Linked DNA regions of Homo sapiens. The protein of the gene in region 1 interacts with the protein of each later gene in a biochemical or structural test. Each region holds a gene or a part of one and is shown in the gene's direction. Other genes may lie near its edges. The genes, in order: IBTK and PDCD4.

Evidence for each region.
Region 2: the proteins of IBTK (region 1) and PDCD4 form a complex in vitro, tested with the Homo sapiens proteins (one study listed by BioGRID).

The regions. Positions count from the first base shown.
Region 1 is NC_000006.12:82,192,118-82,205,016, reverse strand, and holds part of IBTK (inhibitor of Bruton tyrosine kinase), read left to right. Parts: intron 1-58; coding exon 59-160; intron 161-2,371; coding exon 2,372-2,489; intron 2,490-3,534; coding exon 3,535-3,595; intron 3,596-4,308; coding exon 4,309-4,430; intron 4,431-4,763; coding exon 4,764-4,876; intron 4,877-8,570; coding exon 8,571-8,719; intron 8,720-10,374; coding exon 10,375-10,538; intron 10,539-12,899. UniProt on the Homo sapiens protein: Acts as an inhibitor of BTK tyrosine kinase activity, thereby playing a role in B-cell development. Down-regulates BTK kinase activity, leading to interference with BTK-mediated calcium mobilization and NF-kappa-B-driven transcription.
Region 2 is NC_000010.11:110,878,565-110,891,463, forward strand, and holds part of PDCD4 (programmed cell death protein 4), read left to right. Parts: intron 1-2,668; coding exon 2,669-2,971; intron 2,972-4,438; coding exon 4,439-4,533; intron 4,534-6,688; coding exon 6,689-6,802; intron 6,803-9,100; coding exon 9,101-9,322; intron 9,323-10,968; coding exon 10,969-11,066; intron 11,067-11,991; coding exon 11,992-12,106; intron 12,107-12,899. UniProt on the Homo sapiens protein: Inhibits translation initiation and cap-dependent translation. May excert its function by hindering the interaction between EIF4A1 and EIF4G. Inhibits the helicase activity of EIF4A. Modulates the activation of JUN kinase.

The DNA.
Region 1 (12,899 bases):
TTTTCTAGGTATAATGTATACAAAGAAAAAGTGATGCTTGTTTTCTTTCTTTTTTTAGAATCTCAAAATGTAGATTTTATTTGTAGTGTTCTTGTGGTGGCTGATCAACTTCTCATAACCCGGTTGAAAGAGATTTGTGAAGTAGCATTAACTGAAAAACGTGAGTAATTTTGAGTTTGAATATTAATATGTTTTCAGGTTCATCAAGGATTACTGTACTTTATTGACTTTATGATTCCACTTATGGTAAAATAGACCATTTTTTTGGTACCACGAAAACCTGCCAAAATATGTAAATTATTACATGCCATCATTTGTAAGTGAATTCTTATTTTAGAAATATGTGAAAATATATATGACTTAGAATTGAAATGTAATATTTGTATTGAAATGTCATAAAACCTTGAAGAATAAAGATGGTGTCAGATTTATTTGCTAATTTCAAGGGTGAGAGTTTAAAAGTGAAATTTTTGTACTCTTGCCCTGATCTTGGCTTTAGGTGTTTTTAGCTACCCATTTTCTACTATTTGCAGTGATTTTAAAAATTTAACTTTCCCATTATATATCTGAACAAAGCACATCTCTTTTTTTCTTGAACTCTTCTTTCTTGCTCTCTTCATTATCTTAGTTAATTTCATGGCTATCCTCCTGAACACTGTACTTTGAAATCCAAAATGAGTTTTTCTTTATTATTTTGGCCCTGACACTCAAATTCATTCAGTTGTCAAAACTTATTCCTTTTAACTATGTTGGTCACATTTCCCCTACCTTTGGGTTCTCACTGTTACTATGCAGTTGAGGTCACTGTTATCTGTTCCTTCTGGGTAGTGTCACAGTAGTGTTTTAAATGCTCTTTCTCCTGTCTACTTCTGTTTCTTTAAGCTTTCTGTAGGAAGTAGTTACATCTTCCCCCTGTTTACATATTTATAATTGCTTACTCTAGAATAAAGGTTAACTTTCCTTAGCTTCCACCTGACAGCCTTTTTGACTTTCTAATCTTATATCTGTTCTGCTTTACTGCTACTTCAAGAAGTGTGAAGGGAATTCCTGTCCATTTTTTCTAGTTCATACTTGCTAGGAGTTTGTCTTGGCTTTGGCATTTTAGTTCTCACTTTTCTTGAGCACTGTAGACTGTCTACTCCTTGGTTATTAAATAGAGAACAACAGCCCTGATCTCCTTTTAAGCAAGAAAAGAAAAATATTCTAAAATAAAGGACACAGCATACAACAGGTATAAGACATACATATAAGTGATATTTTACACTTGTACAGTTGCCTTTGCTGGTCTTCTTCCTCAGTGTTCTTTCATGGCTCTGGCTGCACAGTTGCCTTTATTAATTCCTTGATGTTCCTAGAACCTAGGAAAAGGAGGCTACCACCTCCTTTGGTCTCTGATTATTAGGAATATGTGGATACTTGTTCCCATGTGAACAACTCTAAAGAAGTTTTTATATGATCTAATTTTATCATTTCTTCAATTTCTCTGTTCATCATTAGTTGAAAATGTAGATTAGTCAGGAGTGAGACAGAGACCATTATTGACTGCAGTTGCAACTTTTGATAGAATCACAGGTGAGAAAGAAAAAGAAATGCAAGAAGCCAGATGTAGAAAACAACTGTGTTTCCCTATTGGCTGGTACTGATAGAGTAATTAAGAAAAATAGTGGAGGGAACAGGAAGCTGAAAGTTACCTGTTATGTAGGTAGAATATTCTGGGAGAGTCTCTAGGAAAATGGGTACTTTATATATAATGTTACTACAATTGTAACTAAATCCAGAATCTTTTGCACAGTATATCAGATTTTTCACTGGTGTGAAGAATATTATGATAAGATTGTGATGTACGTATTTTCAAAATATGTATATATTTATATACTTACATGTATATATATACACCCACATGAATTCTGATAGATAACTCAATATATTTTATAGAATTATTTCATCAGTTTTTCTTAGTTTTATATCTTTTTTAGTTTTATGGAAGAGGGAATAACTGCTATGTAAATGGAAAGGAAAGTTGTTCATTAATAAAAGCTTTTTAAAAATATTCAGAAAATGTTAGGTGGAAGATTGTCAGTTCTTATGTGTTTGCTTTTGGGTGGCACTATGCCCCTTCTGTATTCTGTTTTGCTTAGAATATGCTTGTGTGTGAGCTTATTTTTCCTCATAGCCAATCTTTTGAAATTACTTTGGCATATTGGGATGGAAGAGTTACATATTTGCCCCAGTATTAACTTATTTTTGGCAAGAAACTTTTTTTTCTTTATTCCAAATGTTCAAATCGTACAGCTTTAGACATAAATGTATTTTATTTTGCTGTGGTAATGTGCCTTTTATCTAATTTTGCAAATCTTTTCTTTCTTTGTAGTTACCCTGAAGAATGCTGCTATGCTACTGGAATTTGCAGCAATGTATAGTGCAAAACAGTTGAAACTGTCTTGTTTACAGTTTATAGGATTGAATATGGCAGCTTTACTTGAAGCAAGGTAGGTGAGGTGCATATGTTGTAAGATTGTTGCAAAAGGAGATATTTATATATAATAGCAGATATTATTAGTGATTTAAATGTGAATAATGATGTTTACCTGGATGGAAAGAATTTGATCAATGCTGATGATTTAGAAGTTATGTACATTTTAGAATTAGAGAGCTCTTGAAAACTTTTGAATGTTTTTAACAGTGATCTTTTTAAAATGAAATAAATGTATACTTTTTTAAAAATATAAGGTCAAAATATTTTACTTCCTATAAAGTCATTGGTGACAATATGAGAACACAGAAATTTGAGATTAGAGTTCCTGGTGTCAGTTTTTATTTTAAAGCTTCATTGTTTAGTTTATTTTTATATTTTACTTCAGTAGTAATGACTATTAACTATGTGCTAGACGGTGTTCTAAAAGCATTACATAGATTCATTTAGTTAATTTTTATGAAACTCTTATGAAGTAGAGAAGATTCTTTGTACATTTATTTATAATAGTTGCTTGAGGCCGGGTGTGGTGGCTTATGCTTGTAATCCCAGCACTTTGGGAGGCTGAGGCAGGTGGATCGCCTGAGGTCAGGAGTTCAAGACCGGCCTGGCCAAGATGGTGAAACCCTATCTCTAATAAAAATACAAAAATTAGCCGAGCGTGATTGTGTGTGCCTGGTAGTCTCAGCCACTTGGGAGGGTGTGAAGCAGGAGAATCACTTGAACCCAGGAGGCAGCAGTTGCAGTGAGCTGAGATTGCACCACTGCACTCCAGCCTGGGTGACAGAGTGAGACTCCATCTCAAAAAAAGAAAAAAAAAAAGAGTTGCTTGAGTTTTATTCAAGATATTTGTGTAATATGTTTGCTTTGCTGTTTATTTGAAATATGTAATATACAACCACATCTATTTCCAAAAGGAATTTGTAGCAACTGCTATATATAATGCTTAAAAAATAACTTTGTTACTTATCTAGCAATATGAAATATCTACGTATGTAAGCAACTTGACAGTTATCAAGTCACTTGAATCTTAAGATAGAATTTTGTATCCTATATTTTAGGTCTCTTGATGTTTTAAGCGATGGTGTTTTGAAGGATCTTTCTGAGTTTTACCGGAAAATGGTAAGGTTTATGTTTTAAGATTTTCGCGGCTATAATATTACCAGCTTAAGCAGTATATTAGATCAGACTTATTAATGGAATAGTTTCCTAATGACTTCTAGTACATTAGGATCTTTTAAAACTGATGATATAGGATTCCTTTACAGATCTCACAGATACATATGATAATCAGAATTCAAGATACTTAATAATAAAGTTAATATTTATTAATTTCTTTATAAATGAAAGTTACTGAAAGCCTCAGAGTAAGTCTTTTGTTATTTACCAGAGGTCAGGACCGTGCAAAAACATGAATTCATATGATCCCTAAGAAATGAATAAATCTATCTTTAATAATAAAGTGGAGCTTTTTCTCAAGTTTCCTTTTTGGCAGGTTTATGGAATAAAGTTTTTATTGAATTGAATCAAAATTTAACCCCCTCTTGTAAATTTAGGAAGTTATTGAGTATTCAAGGCTGTTCTAGTTAATGTCACCACATATTAAAAATGGAATATCTTACATAATTTAAAAAACATCTTTAGGCTGGGTGTGGTGGCTTATGCCTGTAATCCTAGCATTTTGGGAGGCCAAGATGGGAGGTTTGCTTGGGGCCAGGTGTTCCAAACAGCCTGGCCAACATGGCAAGAGCCACGTGTGCACAAAAAAAAAAAAAAAAAAAAAAAAAAAACTTCACAGATTTTGTATTTGAAAAGTGATATCTTCAATTCTGCAGATTCCAGCAATGGATAGAAGAGTCATTACACCATATCAAGATGGACCAGATATTAGCTATTTGGAAGTAGAAGATGGAGATATCTTCTTGAAAGAAGAAATAAATATGGAACAAAATCATTCGTAAGCTGTTTTCTTTTTTTTTTTTCTTTTCCTCCTTTTCTTCCTTCTTTTCTCCAGTGTGTCCCTTCACTCTCATCTTGGACATATGACACTTTTGTGTTGGTATTGGAAGATGAAATTGAGAAATTCTGACATAAGAAATAGGTAGTTACGCTCATTCTTAACCTTGGTATAATACAAAGTAAATACATAATTAATATCTGTAGGTCTAACACATTGAAAGTGTAAATATTTTAAAAAGTAGCCTTCAGGTTAAACATGTTGGGTTAAATAAGTGCATTTATCTTAGTTACCTCCCTAAACACTGCTGAAATTATGTTTGCTTTTTCCTAGGGAAACTATGTTCAAGAAAGCAAAAACAAAAGCTAAAAAGAAGCCACGTAAACGTTCAGATAGTTCTGGAGGTTATAACCTTTCAGATATTATTCAGAGTCCATCATCTACAGGTTCGTGGAAAGTGAGCATGTATTTCCAGTTCTAATCTTCTATGTCTCTATTCACATATGTCATCTGCTGGGGCTACTGAAATAAACAGTCCTTATGGAGGTACCAAAAGTGATAGTTTATTGTAAGTACTCCAGTTGAAGTTTGCTCTGGGAGCACAAAAGAGGTACTCAAACTAATCTGAGATCAGGGAAGTCCTCTTAGAGGAAAGCAATGCTGAGCTGAGTCTTGAAGAATGAAGTTATCTAAGAAAAGGAGGCAGATAGGTATATTAAGCAAAGGGGGCAATGTGTTCCCAAGCTTAGTAGCAAGAGAAAGAGTTGCACATTTCTTGTGCATATAGTTCAGTATAGGAGATAGGTTGGATAGGGTCAGATTTTGGAGGCTCTTATATGCCAAACTAAGGAATTTGTGTTTTATTCTAAAGGCTATGGGTGGCTGTTGATGATTTAAAACAGGATGTGACTGGATGAGATTTGTTTTTAGAAAGACTACTCTTTCCAGTGGCATAGGGGTTTAGAGGTTGGCAAAACATGACAGAGATAACTATTATCATGTTGATTCAATTTAAATATGTCAGTACTCCAAGTAAGATGCCATTCATATGCATAAGGGGGTTGTAATCTGGTAGTAGAATATAAAATGTATTTAGGCATTATGTGAGCCTGTTTGAAAGTAAAGGTCAGGTTATGTAGTTTTTCTAAAATATTTTTCCCCAGTTTTTTCTTTTGAGAATATTTAACTTACTGAAAAGATGAAAGAAAAATACCATGAACACCTATGTACATTTTATTCAGATTTATTGTTAACTTCTCATCACATTTGCATTTTCTTGCAGACTCTTTGTTGCTTACTGTCTCCTCTTTCCTCCATGTGTTACACACACACACAAACACACACACACACAATACAGAGACTTAAAAAAAAATTGTTCCACTTGGAATAAGTTGTAGACATGATACTTTTCCCCCGAATACTTGAATATGAATCTTTTAAGATGGGAATACTCTTCTACACAACCACAATACCATTATCATACCTGAGACAATTGACATTAATTAGTGTTAATTAGTATTATACTTCATATCCACATTTTCCTAATTGTTGACAAATGTTTTTATAGTCTTTTTTTTTTAACATTAACAAAAAAACTAGTATTCTATCAAGGTTCATATTATCTTTGCTTATTAGTATCTCTTTAGTCTCTTCTAACTAGTATAAAACTGCTGTACTTTTTTGTTTTTTGTTTTCTCTTTTCCAAAAGGTCAGTCCAATTGTGTTATAGACTGTCTCACATTCTAGATTCATCTGATCTAGATTAAACTATATACGTTTTAGTAGTTTCTTTAGATAAAACATGAATTGTGACTATAAAATAATGAGACTACAGTATGGCTTTCAGAAATGGTAGGTTACTCTTGTCTATAGCACTAAGGCATAACCTAGTACAGTTTCTGCTAACAGTACTTCATAGTCAATCAGCTGTATACAAACAACTTTGAAAAATAGAAGAGTACATTGTTTTGTGTCCCTTTGGAAAAAAAAGCTTGTTAGGCAGGGCAAAGAAGAAGGATTTTTTTTTTATGTTTACTGAGATGCTTCAAATTAGGTGCTTGATATGTTCACTAAAGCTCAAAGGAATAATGTCAAGAATAGTTTTAGATAACATAAAGATAAAAAAAGGATAGATAATATGCCTAAAATTTATTTATGAAGCAATGAAAATAGGAATCAGGAGACCTAGTAAATGGGAAAGCTATTATCTTAGGACTTTTCTAAATTTAAAATTCTGTGACTCTGTGTTCTCTGTGTTGTATGAATTACCGTTAGTGTTTAGAAGGAGGCAGGGGTGGATTGATGGAAGGATGAATAATGGATAGACAGTCTTGAAAGTAATGACTTTCCAGTCACCTAAATGACTTATGGAAAAGCAGATATTTGGTTTGTTTTAAATAATGTTATTGTTACCATATGTGTTAGAATCTTAGAATTTCAGAGCTAGAAGAGACATTAGTAATGAAATAATTTATGTCCCTTACTTTAAACCTAAGGAAAGAAGCTCAAAAAACATAAGTGATTTGAAGTAGTGACCAAAAGAAATAAAATTTGTTCTCTTGATTCCAGGTCCGTATTTTCCTGGTGTACTGTTCTTTCTGTGGCCAGGATATCTGTAGTCAAAGATAACTAAAAGGTCAGATTTAATTGGAGGCCAAAAAGACCTGTTAAGGAAGAAAATTTGAGTATGAGGCCAATTTCATCAAAGACAGTTGCGTAAAAGCTTAACATCTGTGTCGATCTTAAAGTTAGACAAACGGCATTCAGCAAAACTGTTTTTGACCAGAAGTAATTGTTGGCCACATTAATTGTCCTCTTTTTTTCTGGATTTATTTCTAACTGACTTTTGAGAGTGTTCTAATATTAGATGTATTCTCTTCGATGAAAATTTGCCAGCCTTAAAAATATTCAAAAAGAGGCAAGACGCAGTGGCTCCTGCCTGTAATCCCAGCACTTTGGGAGGCCAAGGCGGGCGGACCACAAAATCAGGAGCTCCAGACCAGCCTGGCCAATATGGTGAAACGCTGTCTCTAGTAAAAATACAAAAAAAATTAGCCGGGCATGGTGGTGCATGCCTGTAATCCTAGCTACTTGGAAGGCTGAGGCAGGAGAAACACTTGAACCTGGAGGTGGAGGTTGCAGTGAGCTGAGATCATGCCACCGCACTCCAGCCTGGGCAATAGAGTAAGACTCTGTCTCAAAAAAAAAAAAAAATTCAAAAAGATTGTGTGGCAAAAAAAATGTTTAAATGTTCTTTCCAAATTGTAGTGATAACAATAAAAGAAACATTTAGCTTGTTAAGGTGATTTACTTTAAAGAGAACAATGTATAAGAGATGGTAGGTTTTATTTTTAAATCAATTATACAGCTTTTAGTTACAAGTTAGATAACATCTTTATTTTATAGCTTATTTTGGTACTTCATTTAGATTCTAATAAATTTGAAATGTGTGGAAATGGACATGTGAATCTAAGCAAAAGTTTGAACCTGGATACCAGGTGTGGCATGAGGCCAGGCATTTAGCTTGCCTAAGAGAAGAAATGATATATACATTTCACAACAACCCTCTTGCTTCAAGCGAGCTCTCAATAGCCAGAGATTTCAGGGAAAAACACACTTCAAACAGGCCACAGTTGTCTTCTGCGGGAGCCTCTGCTATGGGGTCAGTCAGCTGGCTAAGTGAGAGGCAAAAAGGCCACAGGGTTCCTCCCACATAGAATGAAGCTACCCCCTTGCTTGGGTGCGGAGACCACTGTACCAAGAGACAGATGAGAAAGGGAAAAGAGGTCTGGATTTTAATTATTTTCCCTTTCTCCTTTGTCTCTTATGCGGACAAAAATATTTTAAATCACTTTTTAGAGCAGATCCCAAAGAACTATCTTCCTCAGGTTCATTACACAATTGGTGTGTGATTGTAATGAATAAAATTATTGTTTTAGAATCTCTTCCATTTCAGTTTTTCACTTAAACTGATTTCTTTCTCCAGTTAACTTGAATTATTAAGATTTTTATACCATAAATATAATTTGAATGTTATTAAATCTGGATAAATGAAAGCTTTTTTAGCTCTCTGGTTCATGGAATGTAATGCATATATGTTTAATGCATATGTGTTTAATTTTTTTTAATTTCATGTTTTAGGATTATTAAAGTCTGGTAAGACCAATTCTGTGGAATCTCTTCCAGAACTGTTGACATCAGACTCTGAAGGAAGCTATGCAGGAGTGGGTAGTCCTAGAGATTTACAGTCCCCTGATTTCACAACAGGATTTCATTCAGATAAGATTGAGGTTTGTTTTTTGAAGCACTACCTCCTTACCTTCAGATTTTAGATTTATAGATGGTTTATCTTTAATATTTCCTTATTTTTGCCCTAATTTTAAAACAGTTTCCAGGTTGGTATATAAGAATCACAAATATAGTGTTAGTTTTCTTAAATTTGCACAACATTTCTATTTTTAGAGATTGTAATGGCAGTTTTGAGCCCTTTATGATGTTATTTCTAGTCTTTGTGCAACTAAAATATAATGTTGATGTAAAATATAATAACACTATAGACATGTTGAAAAAATATATTTGTAGCTAAATTATTGAAATTTATCTTGTGAAATGTCAGTTAACATCAGTTAAAAATTGTCAAGGCAAATGATTTCGAAAATAAGCCTACTTTGAAAGTTCGCAGTCTCTTTCCTCCAGGGTATTAACTGGAGCAAAACAATTTGGAAATGATTTGAGTTCTTCTCCTAATCTAGCACATTAAGCTGCAGGATTCCTAGCCTAATCAGCTCTGGGGAGGGCATTTCTTAGACACTCCTTAACATTTGATTCCATAGCTGTTAACCTATTAGAGAAAAATGTGTAACTGAATAGAGATAGAGTCACTTTTCTGTAACTCCTACACATCCACAAAACGTATCGGAACTTCTAGGAATTCATAAGACAACAGAAGTTTACCCTTTCTTCTTAGAGTCTTTTAGGCCTCAAGGATTGATTTGATTTTTTTTTTTGAGACAGGGTCTCTCACTCTGGTTGCCTAGGCTGGAGTGCAGTGGTATAGTATCAGCTCACTGCAGCTTTGATTTCCCGGGCTTAGGTGATTCTCCCACCTAAGCCGGCAGAGTAACTGGGATTATAAGCACGCACCATCACGTCCAGCTAATTTTTTTATATTTTTAGTAGAGATGGGGTTTTGCCGTGTTGCTCAGGCTGGTCTCGAACTCCTGGACTCAAGCAATCCACCCACTTCAGCCTCCTAGAGTCCTGGCATTACAGATGTGAGCAACCACACCCCGCCAGGATTGATTTTTTTTAAAATATAGGATAGAAGTTTGGGGGCAATTTATATTCACACTAAGGTTGGTCTGTAAGACAATTGAGGTTTAAAGGAAGGCTCAGGGTATATTGTGAGTGATTTACAATAACAGAAGAATCTATCCTGGAAATAGACATATCATTTTAATAACTTCCTTGACATATTACAATAGCAGTAGTTTTAGGGTTCCTTTCAAGGTGTCAGTATTATTTGACTTTAATTTTATTCACAGTACTTTACATCAGAGTGAATTATATGACATTTATACAAAACTTTCATTTTGTTTCATATTCAAGCCATGGATATTAATTTTAAAATTACTGCTTCATGTCTTATTTGTACAACTTTTATATATTACATGTTAACTATTTGTGTAGAGATTTAATATGCAAACTAGTTTCCCTAAAAATTATTTTCAAAGCTCATAATAATTCAGTTATAGTCAATAATGTGATTTGAGAGTTGGCTAAGGCACAAAACTGTAGAAGAACATGATTTGAAAATACTAGATGGCTTATTGTCATAAGATTTTATTCTTCATTATAATGTAACTAATATTTATTAAGTACCAGCTATGTGTTAGTTACTGTTCTAGGTGCCTGTTAACTTTTTTTATTTTTTTTCTCTCCCCAGGCGAAAGTCAAACCGTATGTTAATGGTACATCTCCTGTGTATTCTAGGGAAGATTTAAAACCATGGGAAAAGTCACCAATACTTAAAATATCTGCTCCACAGCCTATTCCCAGTAACAGAATTGATACTACCAGCTCTGCCAGTTGGGTTGCTGGTTCTTTCAGGTAGGATTTTTATTTTATTCTATAACTGTTAGTTTGAGAAATGTCATTCATTTTTAATGCAATTTAATTTTTTAATGATGAACATTTAAGAAATATTAATATAAATTTCTAATGCACAGAAAATTGCCTAAATACCTACAAATTGCTAACCAGCTATAATAGGCTTCCCCCCCAACCAACCCCAGGCAAAATTTAGTTGCCTTTGTATTATCATCAGTGAATAGTAGCAAATACTATGTTTTACGTATATAGAGAGAAACTTAGTATCAGTAGTTATTTCTTAGATAATATGTATTGGTTAAAAATGCTGCACAGGAAGACAATTTTGTCAATCATAGACTTTATCTCTTAGAGCATGTGAAGGGGTATTTAAAATTTCACAAAATGTGTAACTATTCAGTTAATTTTCAGAGGATATTAATTTAATGTTATACTATCCTTTTAACTTGCCTATATTATATATATATTTTTTCATTTATTTAGAAAAGTCAAATGAAGGCTGGGCATGGTGGCTCATGCCTGTAATCCTAGCACTTTGGGAGGCTGAGGTGGGTGGATTACCTGAGCTCAGGAGTTCGACACTAGCCTGGGCAACATGGTGAAACCCCATCTCTACTAAAATACAAAAAATTAGCCAGGCGTGGTGGTACGCACTTGTAATCCGAGCTACTTGGGAGGCTGAGGTGGGAGAATCGTTTGAACCCGGGAGGCGGAGGTTACAGTGAGCCCAGATCGCGCCACTGCACTCCAGCCTGGGCAACAGAGCAAGACTCCATCTCAAAAAAAAGAAAAAGAAAAGTTAAATGAGTAGCAGATGTAATTAGAATGTAGTATTCTTTCAAAATGTTAATTAAGCTTGTGCTTCATGTTTATATGCCTACAATGGTTGATAAAGTCTAAAACTGTTAATTGACATATTATCATCTGGACTGTTTAATTCTTTTGAAATAGGCTATATTTTGCAGAGTTGGAACAAAGATTATGATGTTCCATTTTATGTGCTTCATGGTTTAAACTTTAGTTCAGAAATTAGTTTCAATTTTTTTTTTTGCATAAGTACACAAATTGGTAAATATTTAATATGTGGGAACATCTGGAAACATCTTCTGATTGCTAATGTTAGGATATTTTGTTAAACATGTTTTAAAAATACCCTGGTCTACAAGATAGATTAGGCTATTTCAGTACTATGCTCATTGACAAAATGCATAGCAATAGGCAATAAACATTCTCAATATTGACATATACACAAACATTTCTACATTCATTTTGTAGTATTGCCTAGTGTAAATAATAAGTAGAATTTGTTTTTGATGAAAGAAAAAAAGTACAGGAAACAGGTTCCCTTTAATATGAAGTAATATGACTTTTTTTTTTTTTTTTGAGACAGTCTTGCTCTGTTGCCCAGGCTGGAGTGCGGTGGCACGATCTCGGCTCACCGCAACCTCTGCCTCCTGGGTTCAAACGATTCTCCTGCCTCAACCTCCCGAGTAGCTGGGACTACAGGCGCGTGCCACCATGCTCAGCCAATTTTTGTATTTTTAGTAGAGATGAGGGTTCACCATGTTGGCCAGACTGGTCTTGAATTCCTGATCTTGTGATCCGCCCACCTCGGCCTCCCAAAGTGCTGGGATTTCAGGTGTGAGCCACTGTGCCTGACTGACTTATTTTTATCTGTAGTGTAGATTTCATTTAGGTCGAAAATCATCTATTTCTTTTTTTTTTTTTTTTGAGACAGAGTTTCGCCCTCATTGCCCAGGCTGTAGTGCAGTGGTATGATCTCAGCTCACTGCAACCTCTGCCTCCCAGGTTCAAGCGGTTCTCCTGCCTCAGCCTCCCTAGTAGCTGGGATTACAGGCGCCTGCCACCACCCCTGACTAATGTTTATATTTTTAGTAGTGACGGGATTCCACCACATAGGCCAGGCTGGTCTCGAACTCCTGACCTCAGGTGATCCACCCGCCTCGGCCTCCCAAAGTACTGGGATTACAGGCTTGAGCCACCACACCTGGCCAGAAATCATCTATTTCTAATGATTGTAGAATTTTGTCATTATGGTATAACTTCCTCTGGTGGGTCTCCAATATTATTTAGTATCCCCAAGTTTTTCTATTAAATGTTTGTTTTTGTTAATATTAAACAGTAGAATGAGTTTTGTTTGTTAAAAATAGAAAGGAAAGAATGTAATTTTCAAGCTTCATTTAACCTAAAGGTAAGAATTTAATTAGAACTTTGGTGAGTTTTTCTGCCTAATTTAGTTAAGAATCTTTCTATTGCTTCACTTTTTTTAAAAAATGTTTTTTTAAATATAGGAATTTCAGTTATATCACAACATTATGACTTTGGATACATATTAGTTGT
Region 2 (12,899 bases), on another chromosome or scaffold:
CCCCTTCCACTTAATCATTTTTGTTTATCTCTCTTTACATTCACGCCCTTGTTCGTCTCTTTAGCTGTCAATACTCTGCTGTATTCTAGTTTTGTATTTTCTGTAGTTATATGGGATTAAAAATGTGGGTTTGAATTCTAGCCATAATCCTTTCTAGATATGTAACTTCTTGTGAAACACATTCCTTCTGTAAAATGAGGATAAACAGTTTCTTTCTAGAGCTCTTGAAGCTTATAGACCACATATGTAAAGTGCCTTAGCTAATAGGTACCAGGTAGTGTGGAATCTAATAGGTACCAGGTAGTGTGGAACCTGGTATCTAATAGATGACAATAGTAATGGTAATGATGAAAGAAACAGTACTACGACTACTTCCACTAAGACTATAATTACTACTGATGGTTATGATGATGTCCCAAACACACCATCCTAACACCGGCTTCTTACCAGTTTGAAAACTTTTAAGGCATTGTTTGACTTCTCTTTAATCCTAGATACATTCTGCTTAAAAGTCCTTCATTATTTTCTTTAAAAGTGTAACATTATTATTTATCCCACAGTTACTACCCTTGCTCTTTACCAGTTAGCTTGTGACTGAATTACTGAAGCATTTTCTTAGCGGTTTCCTACTTTATACTTTCTCTTTTTGTAATATACTCAGTATTCTTCTGCCAAATGAATCCCTCCCATCTCTTCCCTATGATATCTAACTTAAGCTCTGACAATTTGAGTGTGGGAGTAGTTAGCAGTGATTCTGGTGAGGTAAGCAGGGGCAAGATCATAAAGGACCTTAAGTTACAAGGTAAAGAGTTTACATTTTGGCTGGGTGCGGTGGCTCACGCCTGTAATCCCAGCACTTTGGGAGGCCGACGTAGGTGGATCACGAGGTCAGGAGATCAAGACCATCCTGGCTAACACGGTGACCCCATCTGTACTAAAAACACAAAAAAATTAGCCAGGCGTAGTGGCAGGCATCTGTAGTCCCAGCTGGGGCAGGAGAATGGCGTGAACCCGGGAGGCAGAGCTTGCAGTGAGCTGAGATTGCACCACTGCACTCCAGCCTGGGTGACAGAGCGACACGCTGTCTCAAAAAAAAAAAAAAAAAAGTTTACATTTTTTGTGACATAATGGGACTACTTTTAAAGGATCTTCAGTGAGGGCATGCTTGAGAAAATCAGTCTTCATTCAGTATAGTTTGAAGACTGGAGGCAGGGAGACTACTTATGAGACTAGTGAAATAATTTGGCTCTAATTGATGATTTTGTTTAAAACAAAACATTCCTACCTTCCTAAGTATGTCAAGAATTGTAAAGATTTAAACACATGTATGCTTTTTATAGGTTGGTGAAAATTTTTGGTTTCAACATGTCTTAAAACATATTAAAGCCCATGCACATAGACCTGACATGTTATAATTATCTTTAGGCATATAGAAAATGATTTGAGTGATTCAGCTCTGATTTGCGTTAACAATAATGAACAAAACTGTGGCCCAGTGGTAGCTAATTCAGTAGCCTTTCTGACTTAAAGAGCTTTCAGGGCAAAGCCAAGTGCCTCCACTTGATCTCCATGGAATTTGAGTATGAAGGACACTCTGCTAGGTGATGGGGATACAAAGAAGGACATACAGTCTAGTTGTGGTTTCTCCTTTGAAGCTTATGACTTAGTTGGAAGAAAAAGACTGCTATATAAAAAGAAAGTGATTTCCATGACGTGTTGAATGAATAGTATGTGAGCAATTAGTGTTCCTGTACCTAGAGTTGTAAGGGAAGTTTTAATGCAGGGAGTAAGACTTGGGCTATATCCTAAAGGATTTTGATAACTGAAAATAACAGTGAGGGCGACATTCTACTGGGAACTCCAGTATGTTGATCTCTTTCAGAAGAATCAATTTTATATAGGCTGGAAGATTTACAGGATGGTAAGTAATAGGAGAAAAGTTTAGGGAGATGAATTAGGACTTTGAGATGTTGGCTTTTCTTGAAAGCAAACTTTGTCTTGAGGCAGTAAAGCATCAGCAGTTCAGCTCAACAATCATATGCGATTATTTGCTAAATGCCTTTCATTCTCTTTTGGATTACTAATAGTTCTTAAGTGTTTATACCTAGTTATGGGACGTTTGGCAAATCATTTAAACATTCTCAGCCTTAGTTTCCTTATCTGTCTTCAATGTTATAATAATTAACTGCCAAACTTGTGCATAAATAAATGATAGAGTGTCTAGCACAGTGCCTAATAGTAGGCATTCTATAAATATTAGTTTATCTCTCTTCTCAAGATGCTTTGTCTTTTCTTAATATCTCCAATTAGCTCATAAAAGTCTAAGGGTTTTATATTTGGTGTTGCTGTTAGCATAGATTTTATGATCTAAACGTGAAATAACATGCTTCTTTTGGTAAAAACAAACAAATTTGGTTTGTTTTTGGTAAGAAACAAACATGCTTTGTTAAAATTCAGTGCCTTGGTTTACTTTCCTTGATAATGTGAAAAGTAATCTTATTTAGTTGTTTATTAGATTGAAGTAGATGAAATTCCCAATATGTGACTGTAATTTACCTACAAAAATGGTAATGTCATGTGATTCAACCTAATCTAACTTACCACTATATCTATAAAACAGTAGATACTTAAAATACTTAGAATTTTTTTCTTCATTTTTCTCTTTAAGATCCTGATAACTTAAGTGACTCTCTCTTTTCCGGTGATGAAGAAAATGCTGGGACTGAGGAAATAAAGAATGAAATAAATGGAAATTGGATTTCAGCATCCTCCATTAACGAAGCTAGAATTAATGCCAAGGCAAAAAGGCGACTAAGGAAAAACTCATCCCGGGACTCTGGCAGAGGCGATTCGGTCAGCGACAGTGGGAGTGACGCCCTTAGAAGTGGATTAACTGTGCCAACCAGTCCAAAGGGAAGGTTGCTGGATAGGCGATCCAGATCTGGGAAAGGAAGGGGACTACCAAAGAAAGGTTGGTATATATCATGTCCAACAAATGGAAGATAAACAAGTGGAAAAAAATTGTCTGGTTCTTGTACTACACTTTCCTTGTTCTAGGAATGAGAGAGATTCAAAAAGTGAAAATGTAAGGCTTTACAGTTTGTATATATTTTTACTTAGTAATAATGTGAGAACCATCTCACTTTTTCTTTAGGTTGATGTTTTTTCTTGTTTGAGTAGATTTAATTTTCTTGAGCAGAATGTTAACGATTTATTTCCAGCAAAATATACACTGATGTTTTTCACTGTTACGAGTTTTACGTATATTCTCTAAGTTTGAAAGGAGTCAGAAATCCATCATACTTATTTAATATAATTATGTCCATTACTACTACTAATAAATATACATTTGATTGATAACGTCTAGATCTGAATTTTAATGTTTTCCTAGATCTCACGGTGAGTTCTCTTTAGCTCTTTATTTTGGGTTCTGTAGTAGATTGGTCTGTTTCACTGCTGTTTCTCTAGTACCCGAAATAGTGACTAGTACACTGTAGGCAAATATTTGTTGAATAAGAGTTTTCTGACGATTTCATCACCTTCTGAATGGTGGGAACTTCAATTTATAGCCTAGGTTTCTTGTAAAATGTTTTTGTGATCTGTCAAAAATTAGTTTTGTTAAATGCCTCTGCAATCATGTTTTATATCAAAATGAAACCTGGTTGTCAGATTCTGTTTTGGTCTGATGGCAAGGATATACTTGGTACAAAATAAAAACCTCCAAAAACAGAAATGTTGGTGACATTGTAAAGGTTCTTTAAAAAATAGTGTAGTACATTAGTCCTTAAAACATTTCAGTAAGTTGATGTAGAAAAGCAACTTTGAAAATTGGAATTGTTAAGCTTCTTTTGGTTGTTTTGTATTTAGAAAACAGAATTTTCAGGGCTGTTAATGCTTAAAAGCAGTTAGAATTCTTTTCTATATTTATAACATATTGCTAGTTGTATGGTTTAATGTGTACTTTAATATTTAAAGAGTACTGTATTTGACCTTAAAATATTTGATGGTGGTTACTGTCCTTTTTTGTTAAATAATTTTTCCCTTGTTGAGTTTTCTATGCTAAGCTTTACCGGCCCAGAATGTTTCTTTTTGTCTTAGTCTCAAAGAAATGTCGAATAAAATTTAGAGCTCAGCTGCAATATCATCTCCTTTGAGGTCCTCAATATAGCTATTTTTTTATCTTTATTTGTTTTTGCTTTTATTTTAAAGCATCTGCTTTTTTAGTTTTTAACTTCATAAGCTATTTTAACTTAATGTTTTTGGAAATATTGAAAGAGTGGTCTGAACAAAAACCAGTAGGGGAAGAAAACTGGAAAAAAACTAACACGTTAAATACAATTTTTTTTTAGCTGTTGTTTAACATCGGAACATTTTATTTTAGATTTCAACAAATTGATGAATTTTGTGTTTTTTCTTTCTCAATGCTAAACTTTTTCAGGTGGTGCAGGAGGCAAAGGTGTCTGGGGTACACCTGGACAGGTGTATGATGTGGAGGAGGTGGATGTGAAAGATCCTAACTATGATGATGACCAGGTATCAGTGCTTTGCTTTTTCATAATATTTAAAATGTTTATGAACTTTTTTGACTTCATGTTTGTAGTTTACTCATACATGTGTCAAATCATATGTATAAATGTTTTGGATTAGGAAACCAAGTAAACTGACAGTAATACATGCATAACTTTCACTTGGTTTCTGTAGTGAGTCAAAAATAGCTCTTTAGAAATTCACTTAGGATTATTAAGTTGTCCATTTTTCAGTAAATTCTGTTAATATAGTTTGTTTCTATAGTAATGATAATTGAGAATATCTTCTTTTGAATATTATGAGTTACAGATATTAGATTCCTTTTAAATATTACTGTTTAGAATGGTAACTATATAATACATTTTGTTTTGGGGACATGCGCATCTTTCTTTTAGGGATAATGCTGAAAATGTAAATTTTTAATAGATTGTGAAGTGAATTTTTTATTTTTTTTAATGGAAAAAATTTAAAGTAGAATAGTATAATCTGCTTGTACTCCTCTCTTAGCTTTACAAACTTAAATAATTACAAACTCATAGGCAGTCTTGTTTAATTCCATTTACTCTCCGTCTTCTATTGGCCCCTTTGCCCCACCCTGTTTTGGATTATTTTGAAGCAAATCCCAAATGTTTTGATTATGTTTTTTGAAAATTTGTCTTTGCACAAGGTGAGACACGGTGATGGAAATTTTAGACAGGAAAACGTTAAGAGTATGTGTTAGGTTGTTTTTATTGTGTGTTGTATGTATGTATTTAAGTGTTTTAACTAATAGATATGGAAATATTTCTAAGAGAACATGAAAAATATGAAACTAGTAGGATTCAAGTACTGTAGAATCTTTGCTAAAAATGTATTAATCTTTCAAGTATATGTTTTTAGGCTGAAGCCAGTCACAAGTTGTAAATATAGCAGTCCCCTCTTATCCGTGGTTTCACTTTCCGCAGTTTCAGTTACCCATGGTCCAATGTGGTTTGAAAATATTGAGTGGAAACTTTCAGAAGTAATTCATAAGTTTTAAATTGCATGCCATTCTGAGTAGTGTGATGAGATCTCCTGCTGTCCAGCTTCATCCACCTCATCCTGCCCAGGATGTGAGCCATTCCGTTGTCCAGCGTGTATCCGCAATGTATACACTACTCGTGCATTCGTCACATGGTAGCTGTCTAGGTTATCGGATTGAGAAAACAGTATTTATTGGGTTCGGTACTATCTGTGGTTTAAGGCATCCTCGGACGGGGCTTGGAACATACCCCTTGTAGATAAGGGGGCACTACATTTCAGAGCTTTTTTAGCATGGGGAGAGAGGAATGGTTTGATGATGGATGTTAATTTTCTTTTTGAAATTTCAATTGAACAGTGCTTTTTTCCTTAGAGATTTTTTTTCTGTCACTACAACATTGATCTTTGTGTTATACTTTTTATTATAATAATGCTAATCGTGAAGGCTTTGGTTCCTGCTTCATTTTTTTTTAAAGTGAAATTTTAATTAAAACACCATTTATGATAGGAAGCCATCATGAAACTTTTTGATTACTAAAAGATTGGTTTTGAGAGAGACATAAAAATTTTGAGAGAAAAAATTAACAGAAGACATGGGGGTTGGGAGCAAATTATGTATTTGCTGTGGTTAATGATTCTAATCTATATATTGGCTTATTGTATTCTGATTTTGTAAAAGAGCAGTGACATATAAATTCTACTATTTTTATTATGATTTATTATTATTATTTTTTAGCTTTGTTGTCCAGGCTGGAGTGCAGTGATGAATTATAGCTCACTGCAGCCTCGAACTCTTGGGCTTAAGAGATCCTTCTGCCTCAGCTTCCTGAGTAGCTAGGACTACAGGGGCAAGCTACCATGTCTGGCTAATTTTTAAAACTTTTTTGTAGAGACAGGGTCTTGCTATGTTTCCCAGGCTAGTATTGAACTCCAGGCCTCAAGTGAACCTCCCGCCTTTGCCTCCCAAAGTGTTGGGATTATAGGTATGAGTCTCCTTGCCTGGCCTAGATTCTATTTTTATATGCGATCAATGTATGTAGCATGTCTTTGTCTTGTGCTAAGTGGGGATTATTAACCACTTAGAATATAAAATTGTACAACAATTTCACTTGTTTATTTGCATTTTGTTTTTTATAACTCTTACTCCCTTTTCCCCTCAAAGGAGAACTGTGTTTATGAAACTGTAGTTTTGCCTTTGGATGAAAGGGCATTTGAGAAGACTTTAACACCAATCATACAGGAATATTTTGAGCATGGAGATACTAATGAAGTTGCGGTAGGTTTAAAGTTGCAAGTATAATTTATTTAATATAGGAGAGAAGACATCTTTTATAAGCAAAATACATCTACAATGATCTTGGGTCACTGAATAAATTTAATCATTTTCTTTTGCATAAGTGAATTTCTAAGAAATGGAATAAAATCTCATTACATTAAAACAGTTATATATTTGGGATGTGATGAGAGCTGTGTGCCATTTTGTTCTCTGAAAAATGACACAATATTTTTATAATTTTTATAATTATAATTTGTAATGTATATGAATTTATAAAATCTGTTTTTATAATTTATAAAATATAATTTTAGCAGTTTGAGGGCACTTCTAGACGCCCCCCGAAACCTCTTCAGGGATCTCAGTTAAGAATGCCTGACATAGTTTCATTTTTTTGACATTTATTTCACGTATGTTCAGAAGTAGGATAAAATCTTTTTGTACTTTGTCCAAAAAAAACCCCACAAATAATAAAGATTTGAAAAAGAATATACAGAAGCCATGAGAATAATCATGATTTGTTCATAAAGTAAATCTAGGATAAAATAAAACCATTGGTCTAGTTAGGATTATCAAATTAAAGTAATACAATTGTAACTCTTTAGAAGACTTTGATCATTTAGATTCTTAAAATTTAGACTGGACTTTTATGATTTGTCTGATACTGTGAGGTTTGATATCTTTGGATTTGTAGGATTTGAATATAAGACAAATATTTGTTCAGTGCATACCATCTGGAGGAATTTGTAATAGGTGATTCTTGCCCTTTTGAAGCCCAGTCAAGTGAAAGAAATGATATGTAAACAGATTATTAAAATACGTGAAACGTTCTGTTATAGAGGAAAAGTTTCCATGAGTCCTATGAGGGCAGGGACTGTTGAAATCTTGTTAATCTACCTAGCATAAGATCAATTGTATACTATGTATCTGTTAACTGAGTACTGTTTGGAAAGCATAAAATAGAGAGTAATAGTAGAGATGATTCTCTGCTGTCTGAAGGATGTTGAGGAGTTCGCCAGTTAAGATAGTTTTCCAGGAAAGAGGAGTATTGTGTTTGAGGGTAGTGGATTAGTTGTTAAAGTGCGGTCAAGGAAGATGAAATGCAGTCAGTGAGAAGAGATTACTAACAAGGACACCAGTTACGTGGCTGTGAAAATAGTTTTGGCACTCTCTTAGTAGTATATCATGATTTAAAGATTCTAAGAAAACTTTCATTAAAGAGGAGGGCACTCTAACTGAATTAGAACTTAGCTTCTAGAGTCAGACTGCCTTTATTCCACTTTCAGTTTGGCTACTCCAGCTGTGTGCCCTCTCTCCTTTGAGTATGATAGGTGTGATAATTTAATACTCAAAGGGCTATTTGAGTATTAAATAAGATAATATAACTAAAGAGGCTATTATAATGCCTGATACATTAGTCAATAAGTATTAGCTGCAGCTATTATATTTCTAAAAGGAAATTTTAAATTTACCCCAGAATCTTAAACCAATAATCCCATTTAAAAACAGTTGTTTAAGATCTCATTTTAAACTTGATACAAAAGTGTGAAGTGAATTTTTATTTCAAGAGAAGTCTTTGAAGAAAAGTAGAATATAAATAGCTTATGATAATCTAAAATGAATTTTTCCACAAATTCTCATAAAACAATATTTATAGTAATAATAGATTGTAAGGCAGGTTAGTTAACTCCTAATACCAATCTCAGCAATATTATGTAGTTTAATGAACTAGCCATGAGCTGCATAATGACGTTTCCATGACAGACTGCATATATACCTTTGGTCTCATATAATACTCTTTTTACTGTATCTTTTCTGTGTTTAGATAGGTAACCACTGTGTTAACAGTTGTCTACAGTATTCAGTATAGTAACATACTATACAGGTTTGTAGCCCGGGAGCAATAGGTTATACCATGTAGCCTACATGTAGGCTCTGCCATTTAGGTTTGTGTAAGTACACTCTATAATGATTGCACACTGATGAAATCACCTAAATGGTGAATTTCTCAGAATGTATCTGTGTCGTGACCCATGACAGTATTTTAAAGGTATTTCACATTTTTGAATTTAGCGATGTTAAGGCAGTTAAAGCTTGACAAAGTGGATCAATGTCTGATTTATGCACAGGGAAAGGTGTGTTTATCCTATCTTCTAAAACATGACTGGGTCTTTTGATTATTTCCAAAGAGTGAGACGTAGAGATATATAGATAAAAGCTCAATTTTTCAAAAATAAAATTTTATTGAACTATAGGTAGTGATACACTTTTAAAATGTTTTTAAATTATTTTTTTGAACAGGAAATGTTAAGAGATTTAAATCTTGGTGAAATGAAAAGTGGAGTACCAGTGTTGGCAGTATCCTTAGCATTGGAGGGGAAGGCTAGTCATAGAGAGATGACATCTAAGCTTCTTTCTGACCTTTGTGGGACAGTAATGAGCACAACTGATGTGGAAAAATCATTTGATAAATTGTTGAAAGATCTACCTGAATTAGCACTGGATACTCCTAGAGCACCACAGGTTTGTATGATTCTTCTTTTTGTTCATTCCCTCCCACTACTATATTCCTAATTGTGGAAATAATGTATACTCCTAGGAAATTTTAGTAGATGGAAGGGGATGGCCAACATTTCCTACGACACCGAAATATTCCGCTAGCATTTTGATGTATTTTTTCCTAGTTCTTTTGTTTTTTAAACATGGTCTTCATCATGCTATAAATTTAATGTTATCTTGTACTTTTCCCCTATGATCTGCATAGTTTTTAGGTAATTTTTTTTTTTTTGCCATATATATAGTCTTTGTTATATGTAGTTGTTTTATTAGCTAAGATTTTTAAAAAATGTAGGTTATGATTGAATGCTTCACTAATGTTTATTATAAGAAGTCATAAATAAGACTCTTCCCTTTTGTAGCTTTGAAAATGTGAAATTGTTGCTATTGTCAAAAGTTTTTAATCAAGGTAAAATCACTTTACTTAAAACATTAATTTAGAAATAGAATATAGGCATGTCAGTTCCTAAATGCTGTTTCTGTTAAACTTAATGACAGACAATACTCGGTATGAGATATTAAGTGGTGATTCTAATGCAGACATTTTTTCCTTTTATACCAATACACATACTTTAAGAAAATGATTACATAAGTTTATATTTATTGTAGAATTTTTGAAAAATAAAAGCCAGAAAGAAGAAAGGCCAGCAAAAACTGCTACTGGTGTTAAGTTTTCCATTCTCCTTTCTGTGGGTATATATCAATGTATGGCTTCTATAAATCCTTAATTTTTTAAAATTAAAAAAATGGAATCATACCATTATGCTATTTTATAAACTTGATTTTTCTCATACCATAAAATATGGTAAATATCTTTCCCTGTGGCCACATAGTATACCATTTTATGTGTATACCATTTAACCATACCTTTATTTTTGGACACCAATTTCCAGTTTTTATAATAAGTAATGCTGTGAACATACTTTCAACTATTTCTATACAACTTTTTTTCTCCACAAGATAAATTCCTTTGATTAGTTTTTGAGAGAACCTAGTCCTTTTTTTTTGTTTTGTTTTAAGAAGAGAGGACGTCACTTGACCTTAAATCATTCGTTTAACCCCAGCACTTTGGGAGGCCGAGGCAGGCGGATCACGAGGTCAGGAGTTCGAGACCAGCCTGGCCAAGATGGTGACACCCCGTCTCTACTAGAAATACAAAAATTAGCCAGGTGTGCGCCTGTAGTCCCAGCCACTCGGGAGGCTGAGGGAGAAGAATCACTTGAACCTGGGAGGTGGAGGTTGCAGTGAACTGAGATCGTGCCACTGCACTCCAGCCTGGGCGACAGAGCGAGACTCTGTCTCAAAAAAAAAAAAAAAAAAAAAAAATTTGATCATATGCTATGTATTCAGGCAGTGTGCAAGGTGTTAGGGATTCATTAGTGAGCAAAACAGATGTGGCCCCCACTCTGGCACTTAACTTGAAGGTTAAGATGTGGGAGTGTATGCCAGGCATAACAGGTACTACATAGGTTTTTTTTTAAAAAAAAATTCCAGCATCTTTTAGGTACTGACTGTGTACTTCAGCTAATCTTCATCATTTATGTATTTAGAAATTGTGACCTATAAAAGTTATTTAACTTTTTTTATAGCTCTTTTTTTTTTCCTTTTTACAGTTGGTGGGCCAGTTTATTGCTAGAGCTGTTGGAGATGGAATTTTATGTAATACCTATATTGATAGTTACAAAGGAACTGTAGATTGTGTGCAGGCTAGGTAAGTAAATCACTTTTCCTACTTAGAATTTCAAAATAGGGGAAAATTCTACAGGATCCTATTGAAATGACACTTGTGTTAATCAGACACTCTGTACATCTGTTTGTCACTTCTCTATATTCTCCACTGTTAAAATGGAGAGACTATTGGCATGATATACCAGGAAGAGGACAGTACTATAATGGAAAAGTTCTGGAGTTTAGCTAAATCATTAATTACCTTCATGTCAAGCCACTCTTCTTTGGGCCTCAGTTTCTTTATTTATGAAACAAAACCATTGGACAGATCTTTAAGTTCTGTTTTCAGGTTCTAGCATTGTGTAATAGTTTAATATTCTAATAAGATGGATAACCTTAAGAAGAGAGGCCTGATTTATAGTTTTATTTTGTATTTATCTACTGTAGAAATCTTAGTCAGAAAGTATCTTTTTCACTCTTGTGATTTAGTATAATTAATATGATATTTGGTATAACTAAATGTGATATTTGGGAGTTATGCTATTTGATTTTTCTTAACTTCTTGGAGACTTGGACTCAGCCATGTCTTAGTTTTCCTCAGGTCTATATATTAACTTAATTTTCTAGGGCTACTTCACATCATAGTGGAATGGTGTCCCTGGGTAGGAAGGCATGGATCTAGGTGAAAGTTAATTATATGTGAAGTGTTTCTTCTCAGTGTAGATCAGTTATTTTGTAATGTGTTTTGATTTTTCTTGAATGAGAAATGAAATAGAGCATGAGAATATTAACATGAGGATCAACTTCTTTTTGCTCCTTTTTGTTTTGAAAAAGTGTTTTGAATTTTATTTTGCTTTTATGTTATGTGAAAGATTTAGGGCATATAGGATTTTGTCAGCTTTATCCCTAATTTAGTAAACTTTAGGTATGTCCAGCTATCAAACTTAAATTTTTTTCTTTCTCTGTAGAGCTGCTCTGGATAAGGCTACCGTGCTTCTGAGTATGTCTAAAGGTGGAAAGCGTAAAGATAGTGTGTGGGGCTCTGGAGGTGGGCAGCAATCTGTCAATCACCTTGTTAAAGAGGTAATGATTGGGTATTGTTTTTAACTTAATTTATATGTATTCCTCTGAGTGAAATAAATTGTGGCTACTAGCTGGTATTTTTATGGACAAAAATTAAGTTCGGTCTTACAGCTGCAATTGGAAAATGAAATAATTTTTTTAATATGTGGCTTTATAACCTTTTATTATAAATTATATGATTAAAAAATGAGTCTGTTAAAATGGCTTTCATGAATAATTATAAGCAAGCCATCTATGAACTTCAAAGGAATGCCTGAAATCTTTTTCTTATAGTATTATTTAATAATTTTCAAATGCTGTTGAAATGAGATTTTCTGTGTTTTAGCTATTCAATAAATACGCTTTTATATGAGCAATTTAAAACTAGATAGTCTTAAATAATGAGTTATGAATTATGAGCACTAGAGCAGATCAGAGTGTTAGATTTTTGTGAGGACATTCACTACCCATATGCATGTTTTAAAAGAAAATTGATTGTAATCCCAGCACTTTGAGAGGCTGAGGCGGGTGGATTGCTTGAGGCCAGGAGTTTGAGACCAGCCTGGTCAACATGGTGAAACCCCGTTTCTACTAAAAATACATAATAATTAGCCAGGCATGGTGGTGCGCACCTGTAATCCCAGCTACTCGGGAGGCTGAGGCACCAGTATTGCTTGAACCCAGGAGGAGGAGGTTGCAGTGAGCTGAGATCACACCACTGCACTCCAGCATGGGTGACAGAGCAAGACTCTGTCTCAAAAAAAAAAAAAAAAAAAAGCGATTTATTGCATTAAAATGCCAGATTTATTCCCTA